Linked DNA regions of Homo sapiens: region 2 is linked to region 1. The links come from fine-mapping of genetic effects on gene expression. Tissue or cell type: putamen. Region 1 holds a variant in brackets; the other region holds the start of a gene. All regions are shown on one strand. Distances are from middle to middle.

Region 1 (8,000 bases):
AGGGCACGGTGCCACCCAGAGCTCCTGGCGCGTGCCCTGCCACAGCCCTGGACCAGACAGGCATGGCAGGCTGCCACCGTGGAATACATGGAGACAGCCCATTAGACTCAGGCTGATTCCACACCTTCTGCCAAAGACCATTTACATCGAGTGGCGCCAAAGCCGAACGGACGCAACAAGGCCTCTGGCCATGTCAAACCCCAGGGGCCCCCTTATGCCGAGAGCAGGTGGTCAGGTTGAGCATGAGACTTGCTGGGAACACATGGCTGAGGCCATGGTCAGTTCAAGGGCAGGCCAGAACTGGCCATCCCGATGTGCTCTCTCACCCACACTGATCCACGGCAAATTCCGTCACCTTGACCTCCCAGATGCCCCCACCGCCTAACCCGTCTGATCATCACCACTGGCCACACACAGGAGACATCCTGCCCCACAGAGTCCCCTGGAAAACTTACCCCTGCCATGCCCTGAAGGCTCCCAGAAATTGTACTTTCCCATTACCTCAAAAAGTGACAGCAGGACACGGTGCCAGTGATGACAAGGACTAGCTAAAAACCTGCACCCTGAGCCAGCACCGTCCACAGGCTCCATAGAGGCGACTGCACTGAGCCTCAAAACCCCCAACAGGAGTCACCATCACCAGAAAGACTCGCTCGGAGAGCCACTCCTGGTAGAGCCAAATGCAAACACAGGCCCCAGGAACCTGGGCCAGTGGTGGCTTCTCCAGCGGGAGGCCCCTCAAGTGCAAGAGGGGAACAGCCCAGCCACCATGGATCTCGTATGCCTTGCTGGTCTCTGGATGACTCAAGTGCACCATAATTCAGATGCCAGGTGACAAGGCCTTGTTACGTCCTTGAGAGGACGGCCTAACCACCTGGGACCAACAGCAGGAAAGACTCATAACTAGTAAACTGATCTTCACTCACTCTTGGGAGGTGACAGAAACCTGAGGCAGGAAGAGGCTCAGAAAAGCACCGTCTGTGACAGAAAACATGGTGATATCCACTCATCACACCCAATGACTCTCGAGTCCCTTATGCTTGACAAGGGCCTGACTCCTCCTGACGCTGCCCAGGCCCCTGATGGCAGCAGTAGATGAAACAGGCCAGGCCCAGGCACCTGGAAGCACCACACGGCCAGGTGCTCCAGGACATGCCAGCCTTGTGGCTTCAGGCCAAGGGCTCTTCTGCCTGGAGGCAGCAAGGTGGGATCTTCAAAACAAACTGCGGCGATCACAGCCCAGGCTGGAATGCACTTCTGGGAAAGCCGATGCACAGAGGGGAGGCAGGGGAGGCCAGGGCAGACCCCAACATGAAGAGCTCCATCTGCATCCACGGCCCTCAGGGGCTCCCCTCTGTGGACTTCTCAGCCGGCTCTACCTTAAGTCAGCATCGAGGAGGATGCCTGGGGCTTCAAACAGGCAAAACAGCACCAGGCAGGATCCATGACCCAGGGTCTCTGCTGAGGCAGAGAAGCAAGGCCAAAGCCGAGACGGCAGCCACACAACGTGTCCCACAGGGACCCAGGAGCCACCTGCAAACACATCCCACAGAGCTCTGGAGACCCACAGGCCTGGACGCACGTCCTGCTTTCACCACCTCCCAGCTGTTTAGCCCGGGGCTCAAGTTCCTCCCTGCAAAAGAGGGAATCATAAGAGCTTCCAGCTGGGAGCGTCTGTGAGGCTCAAGTGAGAGGCTGCGCATGAAGCACAGCGCAGCGCATGGTGAGGGCAGATGCGAGACAAACACTGACTGCTCTCAGCGTCCCCATCGTCATTCATCGCCGGGATTACAGATGATACACCTGAACCCTGGAGCCCTCACGGGGTCCTGAGAGGCCCCGCTCCCGCCACCAGCCCTCTCCAAAGCACGGTCTTATTTCCAGCACAGCAGAGAAACCGCCAAGAGCATGGCCCCACGCATCCCTGCCCGAGCTTCCCAGCCCTGTTCTTCACGAGCCCTCAGAGCACGCTGGCCTATTCCCCCCCAGATCTGAAAGATGACAGCATGGCCACGGGCTGGGCCACAGAGGACTGCAGCCTCCTGTCCCGGCTCTTCCCACGGCAGAGCTGGGGACGCCAGGCAGAGGGGTGCTTGGGTCCCTAAGGGCCAAGGAGACTAAGAGGGCCCGGAAAGGGAAGGGAGGCTACAGGGCAGCCCCGGGGTGCCCTGTGTGAAGCGTGAGCAGAGGGCGCACCAGATCCACCCACTGATTCTGAACAGTATGCCCTGTCCTCAGCCCCACAACCAGGAGGTCCATTCTCAGATTCTAAGAGCCGAAACGAGGCTTGAGCGTAAACCAGGCCAGGCTCCCCTACACTGCCATGAAGCTCCTGCTCCAAGGTAAAGAGGCCCAGGATCTCTGACACGCTCTGCTCACACCAGTGACCAATGACGCCCCATCTGTCCACGGCTAAAGGAAGGGAGAAACACACAGGAGGCAAGGTTTGGTGGTTCTGACCCAACCCCCAGGCTGCAATGCACTCAAGCACCCCACCCTCCTGGAGCGCCTTACGGCCAGTGCCCTGTAGGCTGCCCCGCTGCCCACTGAGAGCCCTGCCTGCTCCTGGCTCCACAGCCAGCCCCGGACCCTTCGTCACAGCACCACGTCCCGGGGACTGCCGAGAGCTGCTGCACCAGGCACGTTACCAACGTCATCCCGCTGAATCCTCAAGCAGCCCCACAGACACTCTCTCTGCTGTAAGACAGGAATTCCAGTGCAGCACCTGAGCAAACCCGCATAAAGCTAACAAGCAGGCTCCTCGCAACCCTGGAAAGCAGTAAGTCCTACACTGAGAGTTCCAGAAGCTTCTTGCCTCTACCAACTCCAGCCCCAAGACCAGAATGCAGCACAGGTGCCACCGTGGGGCTTCCAGCCTCCAGTCCTAAGAGCGCAGAAACATTCAGACAGAAACTTCAGTCCAGCTCACAGCAGCGTTTGGAACTGTGCTTCACCAGTAAAAGGGGTCAAAACTATAGCTCAATGCTAGGAAAATTCCTTCTTGCTCCAGGCTGGTTGGTGGCCCAGCAGCTAACTCCGAGATATGGTGTCATTTTCTCTTCCTCAAACAAGGGAGGTGATGGCTTCCGGCTCGGCATCTGCTCACTGCGGGATGATCTGTTTCCTGCACCAGGTTGCACGGCAAGCTGACATCAGACCCTCCCTGGGCGGCCTTCCCTACCTTGGAACTCCTCTGGGTGGGAGAGCTCCAGGATCCTCCCTGAAACAGGCTGGAATGCTACTGCAGTAACTATGGAGAGAAACTGAGGCAAACTTTAAAAAGGCAGCAACGGCAGGAACTCCGCAGAGGAGCCCGACCCACAGGACCTGCTGAGGTACCTGCTGGCTTCTGGCTTCACGGACGTGGACATGTGTCATGTTGGTGAAAGGAACACCAAGTCACCAAGACAGCGACTGTGGGAAGGGCGCTCTGTTCCGCACATCAGATCAGCAGAGAAGGAAAGTTACACAACACCCAGGAAGTGCATCAAGACTGCGTGGTGTAGGCTGCTCACAGCGGCACACTACGCCGGCTGATAGGCAACATTCATCTTCTAAAAGCCAAGCTCCTGAAAACAGGCACACGAATGACCCAGCCGTCACTTCAGAAGCTCGGCCTGAGGCACAAGCATTCCGAGATGCTGCCACGTGAGCTACCCCAGCGGCACCGTCACAGCAGCACCGCCTGGAAGAGGGAGCACCGGGCACTGGGCTACGAGGAACAGGGTACCACCTCGATGAGGGAGCACCGGGCACTGGGCTACGAGGAACAGGGCACCGCCTCGAAGAGGGAGCACCGGGCACTGGGCTACGAGGAACAGGGCAACGCCTCGAAGAGGGAGCACCGGGCACTGGGCTACGAGGAACAGGGCAGTGGAGCCGCACCCTGAGAAGCTCCTCAGATGGCGAGAACAGCGTTCACTACCAGGGAAAGATGGACACGGCCAACATACTTGGTAAAAACTGCAGAGGAGAACATACGTGGTCACAAGCACGTGCCCGCTGGTCCGCACAGACGAGGGAAAATGCCCAGCAGCTGCTCTCATGACCCGTGACCTCAGCTGGACCAGGGCTCTGTTCTTCAGTGACTACAAGCTACTTTCAATGAGAAACAAACAAAAGTGACTTTAAAATGAGGCCCGCCTGGCAAAGCCCTCGGGGATCTGGGCCACCGTGGCCTCCCATCTTCTGCCATGCCGCCTCCTTCACGCTCATCTGAATTTCTGTCCAACTGCCTGTAAGAGACTTGTAGAAATGTGCTCAGCTGTTCAACCGTGCGAGGCTCCCTGACCCCGCCACGGCAGGCCGCGACGAACACGGTGTCCCGCCACGGAAGAGAGCAGCAGCCCAGAGGCCAGAACGCAAGCACCAAGGCCACGACGGGACTCATCCACACCTCATTGGCCACTGCCAGCGCTGCCTGTCCTAGGGTCTGCCTCCTTCCTGGGCCTTGGAAGTGCACAAAAGGGCCAGGCACTCAGCGTCACCAGGCCCCAGAAAGCCTTGGTCGGGAAGTGTCCACCCACCAGCAAGCAGCACTGAGACCCGGGGACGGCTCAGTGCCCAGGCGCAGTTCAGGAGGCTCAGACCTCACAGCAACCCAGTCGTTACTGCCAGTACCTTTCAGCTCACAGAGATGAAGAGAGGACCAGGTGCCTGCCCAAGTCACATGACCAGCAAGGAGC[A/G]GACCAGCCGCCCCCCAGGACCTGCAGGCAAGAGGGACCGGGAGCTCCAACCTCACGCCCAGAGGCCTCCTGCGCCTCTCCACTGCCCCATCTCAGGGAAGCGTCTCCAGCGCTCCTGGCGACGGGTGACCAGCGCCATCTGGAGCCTGCACCTTGGCTAAAGAAGCCCACACAGGGCAATAAGCCACACGTGGGACAGAAGCCAGCATACAGACACACACATGAAAGCAAGCTGGAAACGCTTGTGAGAACCCAGGATTTCAGGGCAGCTTCTCCCTTTGGCCTCCCAGACCAGCGCAGTACTGAGGACCTCGTCTCACCCCCAAGACCCCATTTCACAGAACAGGACGGAGCACCAAGCGCGTCCATGGGATGCCCCAAGACTCACCCTTCCCCAGGGCGGGTGCCCCAGCTCTCAGAGGGAGCCCACAGGTCCTGAGAGGCCAGCCACAGCTGGGGTTGTGAGGACCACCTGCCCACTGTAGAGGCTGCTCCCTGAGACAGAGACCCCATTCCCAAACCAATCCCCCCATGGGCTCAATCCACATCTCTGACCACAGCGAAGGCAACATGGGCAGCATGCAGATGCGAATGTTCCCTTCCGTGTGGCCCTGGACACAGAGATGGGCCTGCTGCTGCTGGTCAAGGCAAATAATTTTAGGAAGCACCTCCCTGTTTGGTGGGAGAAAAGTACAGGCAACTTTCCTTTCCTTTAATAGTTCATTCTGTTTCATTTCCAAAGTAAAATGATGAGGATCGCCTGGTAAAGTGTGAACGCTTTAACTTCAAATCACTTTTAATGCCTGTTTCATCTGACAGCGGCTTTGAAAGCAAAAGGCAATCTTTATCATTTGAGGTTTTTCAGTAAATTGATGTGATTATGTCCAACACAACCAGATGCTTCTAAAAGCCAATTTTCAAAGTGACATCAGCCCCCAAAATAAGAAACCTCCTTCTGGCTATTAATAAATTATTAAAACACTCTCTCCACAGGAGGACAAGGCTGAGCTTGATCATCAATGGCAAACAGGTGAGCTTCAGGCCCTCCGCACAGACCCACGGCCTGGTCAGCCGTGCAGGGCGCAGAGCTCCCCTGGGGCCCCGTTGCACGGCCCTTCCCTCTGCCGCAAGCCCACCCCACTGCCCACCAGCCCCACAGGTCCCACCGGATGGGGTTCAGTCCCTCATGGTAGCTCCACCTTCTGGTCAGGGGCAGGCATAAGACCCCTTCTTAGCCAAGGAGGCATAAGGGGCCCTTGCTGGCAGTGGGGGTCCTAGGAAACGCTTTCTTGTACAGAAAAGATCCAAAAAAGAGGCCTCTCATTTCCGCCTCTGGGTGTGATGCCGGAGCCTGGATGGCCCCTCACAGCCACGAGCGAAACCAGAGAAGAGCCGGGCTGTGGGATAAGAAGAAATACATATCTGATCGTCATCCCAGGTTCCCTGAAGCCCTTGGGACTTCCTGAGTGAGGGGCATGTCTCTTGGTATTCATAGTGAGCCCCTTCCAATCACGCCTGCATTCATGCTGACGTGAAGACTCAGGGTGGGCCCGCTAGTGACCGACGGGCTGGTTCCCAAGACCACATGAGGCCCCAACCCTGCTGGGAAGACAAGAACCCTCCTGATCCAAGGAGGGACCCCACAACAGGAGGCCAACCCCCAGACCCCATGGCAGTTTAGCACATTGTCAGAACGATGGACGGTGGTGCCTCAGCGGAGGCTCACAGCACATGGTGGAAACATGGGGCAAACCCTTCCCTCAAATCCCTGCTCCCCCATCTCCTCCCAGACCAGGGCCAACCACATGATGAAGGACAGCCATCCCCCAAGAGCCAGGGGGCACACACTCTCACTCACCCCTAACTCTCCAAAGCAAACGCATCCCCACAAGCACCCTGGGCGGCCAGGTCTACCTGCTGGTGACGGCGCTGTTCTTGTCCTTCAAGGCAAGCTCCCTCTGCTGCAGCTCAACCACGAATCTGGAAAGGTCTTCTGGAGTCCTGCAGGATAAACAAGGCACACTCAGTTCCAGCTGTCCCCGAGAAGTAAACCTGATTCTGCACACAAAACAGAAGGCCAAAAGCAACCTCTGTAGCTGATGCTCTGGGACCCAGGATGTGTGAACTCTGTGGACCCAGGTCCAGGGCAGCATGCACGCACTACAGCCTGGGGTCAACCACAGCCCCCACCCCTATGCAACACCGGGGAGATGACCTTAGAAAGCCCCGATTTTACTTCACCTGTAGAAACAGAGACACGACCTGACAGTGTCACTCTTCAGAGGAAACGAAATCATGTTTAAAAAGCACCCGCCAGGCCCCTGGCACAGGGGAGGTGCTCAGCGAGTTTTAAGTTCCTTTCCTCACCTCTCCTTCAGAAGACCCACATATAACAACAAGAGTAAAATCAGCGATCTCCAGGTGTAGCGCTTTCTACTTTCCAGGACGATTCCAGATTGTCTCAGTGAATGCCCCAGCAACCCTGTTGTTCACCGTTTCCATTTTTTAAACGAGGAAACTCAGACTCCAATGTGAAACAGCCGCTTCAAAGTTCAAAGTGCACCCCGATGATCAGCAACAGCTGAGCTCGGCCCGAGCCACATCTTCTAACTCAACGCTGGGACTCCGGAGGACACAGCAAGGATCTGAGCCATGCATGCAAAGTTACGCCAGTGGTGTGTGAGCATTCCCAGCCTCACAACCTGGGGCACAAAGCCAAGGCTCCCTGGCTAGACTGACCCAGTGGCATGTGAGCTCAGGCCCGAGGACCCATCCTTGTTCTTCTCTTCACCTGTCATGGACCAAGCGCAGGTCCACATAGAAAGCAGGCGCTGGCAATGCTGTGAGAGCCCCACCCAGCCCCACTCAGGGAGCCCGCACCGCACCACTGAATGAGCAACGGGGACCCCGACATTGGCCAAGGAGGCTACCTGCACCCCTGGAAGGAGAGGTCCCAGTCACTCTGTCAGCCAGGCCCCCAGAGCAGCCTCGGGTGGATCCCGGGCACACCCTCCCAGCAGCCTGCCCGGGAGCTCCTCTCTGCGAGTCAGCCACGGCCACGGAGAGGCACACTGCAACCACGGACCCCTAACAGAAGCCATCCTGCTGCCTAAAACGCGCACGCTGCAAACCTCACGCACTGGGCCCGACCAGACTCTGCCCTGAGACAGCCACTGACCTTTCCTGTCACTTGAGCACCCTACCCATGGGCCCCCGAAACCCTCATCAGCTCATCCAGCGCTCACACAGCCCCTCCCCCGGTCTTCCAGCACCCAGCTCCTCCTCCAAACAGAGGAAGGGCCACTTCCTTACAGT
Region 2 (8,000 bases), 95 kb after region 1:
GAGCTGAAAAACAATAAAAAGGCTTTCAGGCTGACCACGATGGAAGCACCAGGAAGCACCTCGAGGATGCTGGGAGGCAGAGGCGGGCGGATCACCTGAGGCCTGGAGTTCGAGACCAGCCTGGCCAACATGGCAAAACCTCATCTCTACTAAACATACAAAAATTAGCCGGAAATCACTTAAACACAGGAGGCAAAGATTACAGTGAGCCGAGATGGCGCCATTGCACTCCAGCCTGGGCAACAGAGTGAGGCTCTATAAACAAAAAAAAAAAAAAAAAAAAAAAATGCTGTTGAAAAGCCCGAAGAGGCATATCCCCGCCTAAGTATGGGCAGGGGCCACCCAAGGGGATGCAGGTAGACACCAAGAGTTCATGGCAAACCTACCGCAAACCAGCAGCGAGGCAGATGTGCAGATCCAGGGGGCCAGCATTCCATTTCTGCACTTTCAACAAGTCATGAAACCCTGAGCCTGTTTTCTCACCAATAAATGGGGACCAGTGTCCCTACTCTAAGGTATTTGGGAGAGACTTGGGAGAGCTCTGGGTGGACTGTCTCACCCTGTTCAAATGCCAGTGCATGCAGCTACCCTGGCTTTACAGCAGGAAACATAAATGGCAAGGATATTCACCACAGCACACGCATCCCAGCCAAAAGCCAAAAGCAACCTTGATGCCACAGTGAGGGAGCTGGTTAAAGAACCTACGGTGCAAGCACTACATGGAATAGGATGAAACTTTCCCAATGACGACAGTGTCTTCAGTTGCATGGGCGGTTGGCTGATCTCATTATTCAGGAGAACCTTTTTATATAGAAAATCTTACTCAAAACCCTAAGATACAAAACAGATGAAAACTGTGTCTCAGCTTCATCCAGAGCAAAGAATCCATAGCCCTGGCCATGAAGCCTCTTCTAGGTTCCGGACGGAGCAGCCCCAGTGGGGCCACCAGGAAAGCCCCAGGGCTTATGCGACTTGGAAATTTAGCTGTGCTGTTGGGGAAAGATGTCAATACATCATTAAGAGTAGCCGGGCACCATGGCTCACATCTGTAATCCCAGCACTTTGGGAGGCCGAGGTGGGCAGATCACCTGAGGTCAAGAGTTCGAGATCAGCCTAGCCAACATAGTGAAACCCTATCTCTACTTAAAAAAACAAAAAGAAAAAATTAGCTGGGTGCGGTGGCGGGCGCCTGTAATCCCAGCTACTTGGGAGGCTGAGGCAGGAGAATCGCTTGAACCAGGTAGGCAGAGGTTGCAGTGAGCCGAGATCACACCATTGCACTGCAGCCTGGGCAAGAGTGAGACTCCATCTGGAGGGGGGGGAAGAACAAAAATAATAACAATAATAATTATATATATATATATATATATATATATATATATATATATATATATATATATAATACATATATGTATGTATCATTAAGCAAAAATAGCTCCAATAGGCTGCAAATTAGCAAGAAAAGTATGGCACAACATCGCTTTTGAAAATGTGAGGGATCTATGCATGCACAAGCCTGGAAGGATGCACACCACCATGCTGGTGCTGGTACCTGCGGGCGGTCTCATGCGAGGTGATTTCCATGTTCACTGCACCTTTCTACCTTGTCTTTCATTTTGAAAATGGCAGCATCCTATTTTTATCATCACCATTGCTAAACCACCCACTCGGAAGCACACGCCTTCAAAAAAGGGCTCCACCATCCCGCATCCACTGGCAAAGGCAGCTTGCCCATGCCCACTCAGCCTCAGGGGAGCCAGAAGGTGCCAACAGCAGTGCAGAGGCCCACCTGTGCCTGCGGCGTTGACCTTCTGCACCGCCACCTGACTCCAGGCCCCAGGAGCTGCCCCACAGTCTAACACCCGAAGGCCGGGCCGCAGAATCTGGTGCCTCTCGTTCACCTCCAGGAGCTTGAAGGCGCTTCGACACCGGTAACTCTCCACCTTCGCAGCCTTCACAAATGGGTCCCTGAGATGTCGGGTCAGCCACAGGTGCTCAGCGCCTGTCCGATTCTTGCAGCGACTCCCAACAGTGTGGAACCCTTGACGCTGAAAGGAAACACACACCAGCTTCAAGTACCTGGTGGGAGAGAAGAGGAGCAGGCAGGTTGGCATCACACAGAACGGCAGGTCATGAGCTGGGAGGGCCCTCGGATCAACTCATTCATTTCTAGAGATGGGGCACCAAGGCCCAGGAGGGGAGGTGAACTGATAAGGCTACACAGATGGAAAGCAGGCATCACAGGCCAAACTGTGTCCCCGCAAAATTAATGTGTTGATGTCCTAACCCTTGGTACCTCAGAATATGGGGGTATTCGGAGACACCTGTAATTCCAGCACTTTTGGAGGCCAAGACAGGTGGATCCCCTGAGGTCAGGATTTCGAGACCAGCCTGGCCAACCGTGGCCAACATGATGAAACCCCGTCTCTACTAAAATGCAAAAATTAGCCTGGCGTGGTGGCAGATGCCTATAAACCCAGCTACTCGGGAGGCTGAAGCAGGAGAATCGCCTGAACCCAGGAGGCAGAGGTTGCAGTGAGCCGAGATTGCGCCACTGCACTCCAGCCTGGGCGACAGAGCGAGACTCTGTCTCAAACAATAACTAAATACATCAATTAATTAATTAAAGTAATATTATTTTCTCATCTGGCAAAAATGTTCATTGGGCTCTGACAGGCTGCAAGAAAACCTCATAAGGACAGATCCTTGCCTTAGTGACCTAGTTCCAGGGCTTTGACAGCTAGTACAGAGGGTCTGGCCTGTCACATTTCTTTTTTTCTTCTTTTTTTCGAGACAGGGTCTCGCTCTATAGCCCAGGCTGGAGTGCAGTGGTGAGGTCACGGTTCAACGCAGATTCGAACTCCTGGGCTCAAACAATCCTCTCACCTACATGTCTTAAATAAAATTGAACTAAACCTGTGTCAATCGTTGAAGGACAATTTCCAAGATTCTCTAGACAATTGTTACAATAAATGTAACAATTTATTCACAGCCCACAATAGCTAAGCAGGTGGAAGCTATACACACCTCCCCTTGTTTAACTCTGACAACAACCTCACCAAGGAAGTTCTATGTCCTCTTTTTCTTTTTTTAAGACGGAGTCTCACTCTGGCGCCCAGGCTGGAGTGCAGTGACAGCTCACTGCAGCCTCCGACTCCCGGGTTCAAGCAATTCTCCTGCCCCAGCCTCCCAAGTAGCTGGGATTACAGGCACACCTGCTACCATGTCCGGCTAATGTTTGTATTTTCAGTATAGATGGGTTCCACCATGTTGGCCAGGCTGGTCTCAAACTCCTGACCTCCGCTGATCTGCCCGCCTTGGCCTCCCAAAGTGCTGGGATTACAGGTGTAAGCCACTGCACCCAGGCATTTCTTTCTTCTTTTTGTTTTTTTAGAGACAGGGTTTTACTATTACCCAGGCTGGAGTGCAGTGGCATGATCACAGCTGACTGCAGCCACAGCCTCTGGGGCTCAAGTGAACCTCCCACCTCAGCCTCCTGAGTAGCTGAGACTACAGGTGTGTGCCACCACTTCCGGCTAATTTTTCTATTTTCAGTAGAGATGGGATTTCACCATGTTGGCCGAGCTGGTCTCGAACTCCTGACCTCTGGCGATCAGCCCACCTTGGCCTCCCAAAGTGCTGGGATTACAGGCGTGAACCACCTCACCCGGCCATTTTTGTTTTGCTATCATCCAGGCTGGAGTTGCAGTGGCACAATCACAGCTGATTGCTGCCATAACCTCTGGGTCTCAAGTGAACCTCCCACCTCAGCCTCCTGAGTAGCTGGGACTACAGGTGTGCACCACCATGCCTGGGCTAATTTTTTTTTTTTTTTTAATTCTTAAAAACCTTTTTTAGAGATGGCATCTCACTACATTGCCTAGGCTGGTCTCGAACTCCTAGGCTCAAACGATCCTCCTGCCTCAGACTTCCAAAGTGCTGGGATGACAGGTGTGGGCCACCAAGCCCGGTCTCTATGTCCATCTTTCTGATTTAAATAAATAAATAAAAGTTACCACCCTCATGGCTCCAAGGCCAAAGCTTCTAGCTTCTGCAACACCAAAGCGTGCTGACAAGCCAGGAGGCACTGACTGCTGACCGTGAGTCGCTGTCTTCCCCTCGCTTAAGGGGTCTCCCGGGAAAATGGCACAAGCCGGTCCCGGGGGCCAGGGCCCACTCGACAGCCCAGGAAGCGCGGGCAATGGAGCTACCCGGCCCAGAAGCGAAATCCCGCCCCGGGCTCGCCCCCGGCGCCTTGGATCTGGGCCCCGGCGCTGCGCCCCCCACCTGGACTCCGCCGCCGGCCCCGGCCTCCCCACGGCCCCGCCGGCCCTGCCCCTGGAGACCTGAGGGCGCCCTCCTCCCGGGGAACTGCGACCCGGAATCCTGGCCTCGCCCCTGTCGCGCTCGCTGAGTGCGGGGACGGTGCCCAGCGCTCGGCACCCAGCCCCGAGGCCAGGACCGAGGAAGGCGACCGGGCGGACCCCCAACCACTCCCGCTGTCTGCACGCGCAGCAGCAGCGCCCAGCTCACCCCGCCATTGGTGTTCCCCGCGCCTGCAGCGCGCCGCCGGAAGTGCCTGGCCTCACTTCCGGTCAGAGGCCACGCCCCCGGAAGCGGCGGTGCAGGTACGAAAAGCGCGCGCGGGGATTCCAGGAGTCGTGGTGACCAGGGAGGGGAGCCGGGCCAGCGGGCGGCAGGAGACTAGGGGAGCTGAGCCATGGGCTTGGGGGAGAGCGGGGCCGGGAGCTCGAAGGAGACCAGAAGAGCAGGGTCGGGGGCTCGAGGGAGACGAGGAGAGCGGGGCCGGGGGTTTGGGAGAGAGACAAGGAGAGCGGGGCGGAGGCTTGGGGGAGACCAGGAGTAAATCACAAAAATTTACTTTGGAAACCGTGGCTTCTGGCAGAAACAGATCAGTGTCGGGACAAAGTACACGGGCCTGGTGTGAAACTAAGCCACAAACCCATTTACCCTGTCTGACCTGCCTCCGCCACCAGGACCCAGTCTCAGTGAAATGGGAAAGGTTCCCTTGTCCTCCTCGAAGGGCGTGCGATGAGGATGTGGCTCACTTCTTCAGTGCCCCGCTTCTCAAGCCTCTAGGGGAACATACAGACAGGCAGGCTGAGGGGCTCCCACCCCACGGCAGTGTCTAGGGGTGAATGTTTGCAGCTCCTGAAGCCCCAGCAGGCATGTGTTAGAGGGTGCTCTTTCAGTTTAGCCTTGTAGGTGGCTTGTGTTAGTCAGCTGTTAGACTCCCTGCCTTATCGCAAGGACAGAGGGCTTTCTGTATCCCTAGGTTTCTTGCCTTGATGTACTGGAGCAATCAGATCACACGGCGGCTTGGAGAGTGAGTGCAAGGTTTTATGAGTGGAATTAGCCCTCAGCAGATGGGGGAGCCAGAAGGCAGTTGGAGTGGGAAGGTGATTTTCCCCTGGAGTCGGGCTGCTGAGCAGCCTGGGCTCTCCTCTGACCGCCCCTGCCAAACTCATGGTTCCATCAGTTGATGGCCTGCTGGTGCCTGTTGGTGTGCTTTCCACGTCCTCTTGACGTCCAGCGGCTTGTGTCTCTGCCCACTATAAAAAACCACTGGGGTTTTTTTATAGGCACAGGACGGGGACGTGGCGGGCTCGGGAAATGCAACATTTGGGCAAAAAAACAGAAATGCCTGTCCTCACCCAGGTCCCTGGGCACAGGCCTGGGTGTGGAGCCCTGGCCAGAGACCACGCCCTCCTCTACCCAGCACTTCCCTGCCCCCTTCCTTATCATCTGGTCCCTTTTCTCAGACACCACAACTTCCAAGAAGGATCACTGGTCCTGAACCCTGTGTCTTGTCCAGGTGTGGACCCCAGAAAAGTTGGTCCTGGCTGGGCGCAGTGGCTCACGCCTGTAATCTCAGCACTTTGGGAGGCTGAGGTGGGTGGATCGCTTGAGCTCAGGAGTTCGTGACCAGCCTGGGCAACGTGACAAAACCCCATCTCTACTAAAAATACAGAAATTAGCTGGGTGTGGCGGCTCATGCCTGTGGTCCCAGCTATGTGGGATGCTGAGGCAGGAGGATGGCTTCAGCCAGGGAGGCGGAGGTTACAGTGAACCGCGATCACGCCACTCTCCTCCAGCCTGGGCAACAGAGCAGGATCTTGTCTCAAAATAAATAAAGGAAAGTTGGTCCTGGCCCTCCAGCATTTCTCCAGGGTCCTTTTTTCAGCAGGGACCTGGCGGAGGCATCGCCCTCAGAGTCCTCTGGACCTGGACCTGCACACCTATGGGAGCAGGAAGGACCCTTGTGACTTCCAGTGGCCCCCCTGGGTGCCAGGTCCCACAGTAGCCACAGCAGGAGCAGAGTGGGTGGGGTATAAACTCCTATCACAGGAGGGAGGACTAGCCGGGCCTGGCTGGGTGGACCTGTGTCTACAGCCACACATTTCCTGGGAATCTGGAAGCCTGCTACAGAGAGGCCAGGTCCCACTAGACTGAAAGAAGTTCCTGTTAATCCAAAGGCCTGACCTGAGGACCACAGGATAAACTGCGTGGTTATTTTGGTGCCAATCAGGCACGGGGACTGTTGTTCCTCACTGTGTGCCTATAAGCAGGGGGTTCCTGGGGGTAGACGCAGGAGCAAGAGCACGCTCTGGAAAGGTGATGTTGTCCTCTGCACCTGAGTACTGACTTGTGGAGAAGGAAGGTAGCGCCGGCCTCTGCTCTGCTTGATCAGCCCTGCTGACCACTGGGTTCTGTTTCTACCCCAGAAAATCACTGGTTCAATGGCAGTTTTCCACCTGCCACAAGGGAAGCCACACGTGGCAGGGCTGGGGAGTTACAGCATACCCCCCCGCCCCCCACTGCCTCCCAGAGCACGTCCCCTTCCTCCTGGCCCCTGGCACGTGCTTCCTCCACGCACGTCATGGCTGACTCTGCCCTCTCACCTTCCTTTCAGAACCCAGGGACCATGGGCGCCTCCAGGCTCTATACCCTGGTGCTGGTCCTGCAGCCTCAGCGAGTTCTCCTGGGCATGAAAAAGCGAGGCTTCGGGGCCGGCCGGTGGAATGGCTTTGGGGGCAAAGTGCAAGAAGGAGAGACCATCGAGGATGGGGCTAGGAGGTAAGGATGGGGCAGGTCTGGCCATAGAACCGGCTTTCCCAGGGCACAGGGATTCGGGCTGTAGGGCCACACCCTTGGTTTCACCACTAAGAGCTAAGTGACCTGGAGCAGGGGGTTAAGCGTGAGCCTCAGTGTCTTCATCTCAGAATGAAGAACAGTCCGCAGCCCTTCGGACTCTTGTGAAGATAAAATGAGGAAATGAACTCGAAGGACTTAGAACGGTGCGCGGTGTGCGGTGCGTGCTGAGTGCGTGTTAGCTGTTGTGGTGCGGTGGTGCTGGGGGCTGCAGGGCGTATCTGGAAGCCTCTGTGCAGCAGCTTGAATTGAACCCTCCCAGCACCCTCACTGTTGCCGAAGGGCTCGTCAGTCACTTGGTTCCTCTGTCTGTTCAGTGGAGCTGATGATCGCTTTCATCTCACACTCGCTGTGCACAAAGCCTCACTGCATCCTCAACACAGCCAGCTTCACCTAGGAAGGAACTGAAGCCCAGAGAGGTTGAGCCGTTTACCCAAGATCACACAGTCCTCCAGACGCCCCTCAACCCTCACAGGGTAAATGAGATCATCTGTGTAAACATCGCTGCACAGACGTTAGCCCCCGTTCGTGTTTTTGTTCTGAGAAAGGTAGGCCAGCTTGCCTGGAGAGGAGAACTACAGAGTAAAGAGGGTCCTGGCACGGAGGAAAGCCAGGACGCTGCAGCCTAGTGGCTTTCCAATTTTTTCATCACAACCTGCAGTAAGAAATACGTTTTGTACTCTGATAGAGTGTACACACTCAGGTGTGCAGGTACAGCTAAAGTAAGTTGCAGTAGCCGCCCTTATTACATAAAAGGGGGCTCTACTTTTCCGATTCATTTCTCTTTTTTTCTCCAGAGGTGGGATCTCACCCATGGCACACTCTTG

Which allele goes with the higher level. Alleles are on the strand shown, and positions count from the first base shown. SD is a standard deviation of normalised expression in the study named.
As copies of A replace G in region 1, the expression in putamen of the gene that starts at base 4,598 in region 2 goes up (large effect, 1.4 SD a copy in GTEx).

Evidence for each region. PIP is the estimated chance that this variant, and not a neighbour inherited with it, causes the effect.
Region 2: it holds the start of NUDT1, and the variant in region 1 is fine-mapped to the expression of NUDT1 in putamen (GTEx, PIP 0.96).

The regions. Positions count from the first base shown.
Region 1 is chr7:2,142,553-2,150,552 of GRCh38, forward strand. MAD1L1 (mitotic arrest deficient 1 like 1) reads right to left here. Exons shown (of 19, transcript NM_001013836.2): 11 at 6,600-6,686. Among named protein-coding and RNA genes, the nearest start is that of SNORA114, 58 kb to the left of the region's middle. RefSeq lists a silencer at 4,821-5,007. The variant A/G (reference allele first, on the strand shown) is at 4,686.
Region 2 is chr7:2,237,629-2,245,628 of GRCh38, forward strand. It overlaps NUDT1 (nudix hydrolase 1), which reads left to right and starts at 4,598. Exons shown (of 4, transcript NM_002452.4): 1 at 4,598-4,628; 2 at 6,935-7,098. The coding sequence starts at 6,947. It overlaps MRM2 (mitochondrial rRNA methyltransferase 2), which reads right to left and starts at 4,577. Exons shown (of 3, transcript NM_013393.3): 1 at 4,534-4,577; 2 at 1,790-2,079. The coding sequence starts at 4,541. RefSeq lists enhancers at 1-386, 1-71, 3,110-3,961 and a silencer at 4,284-4,503.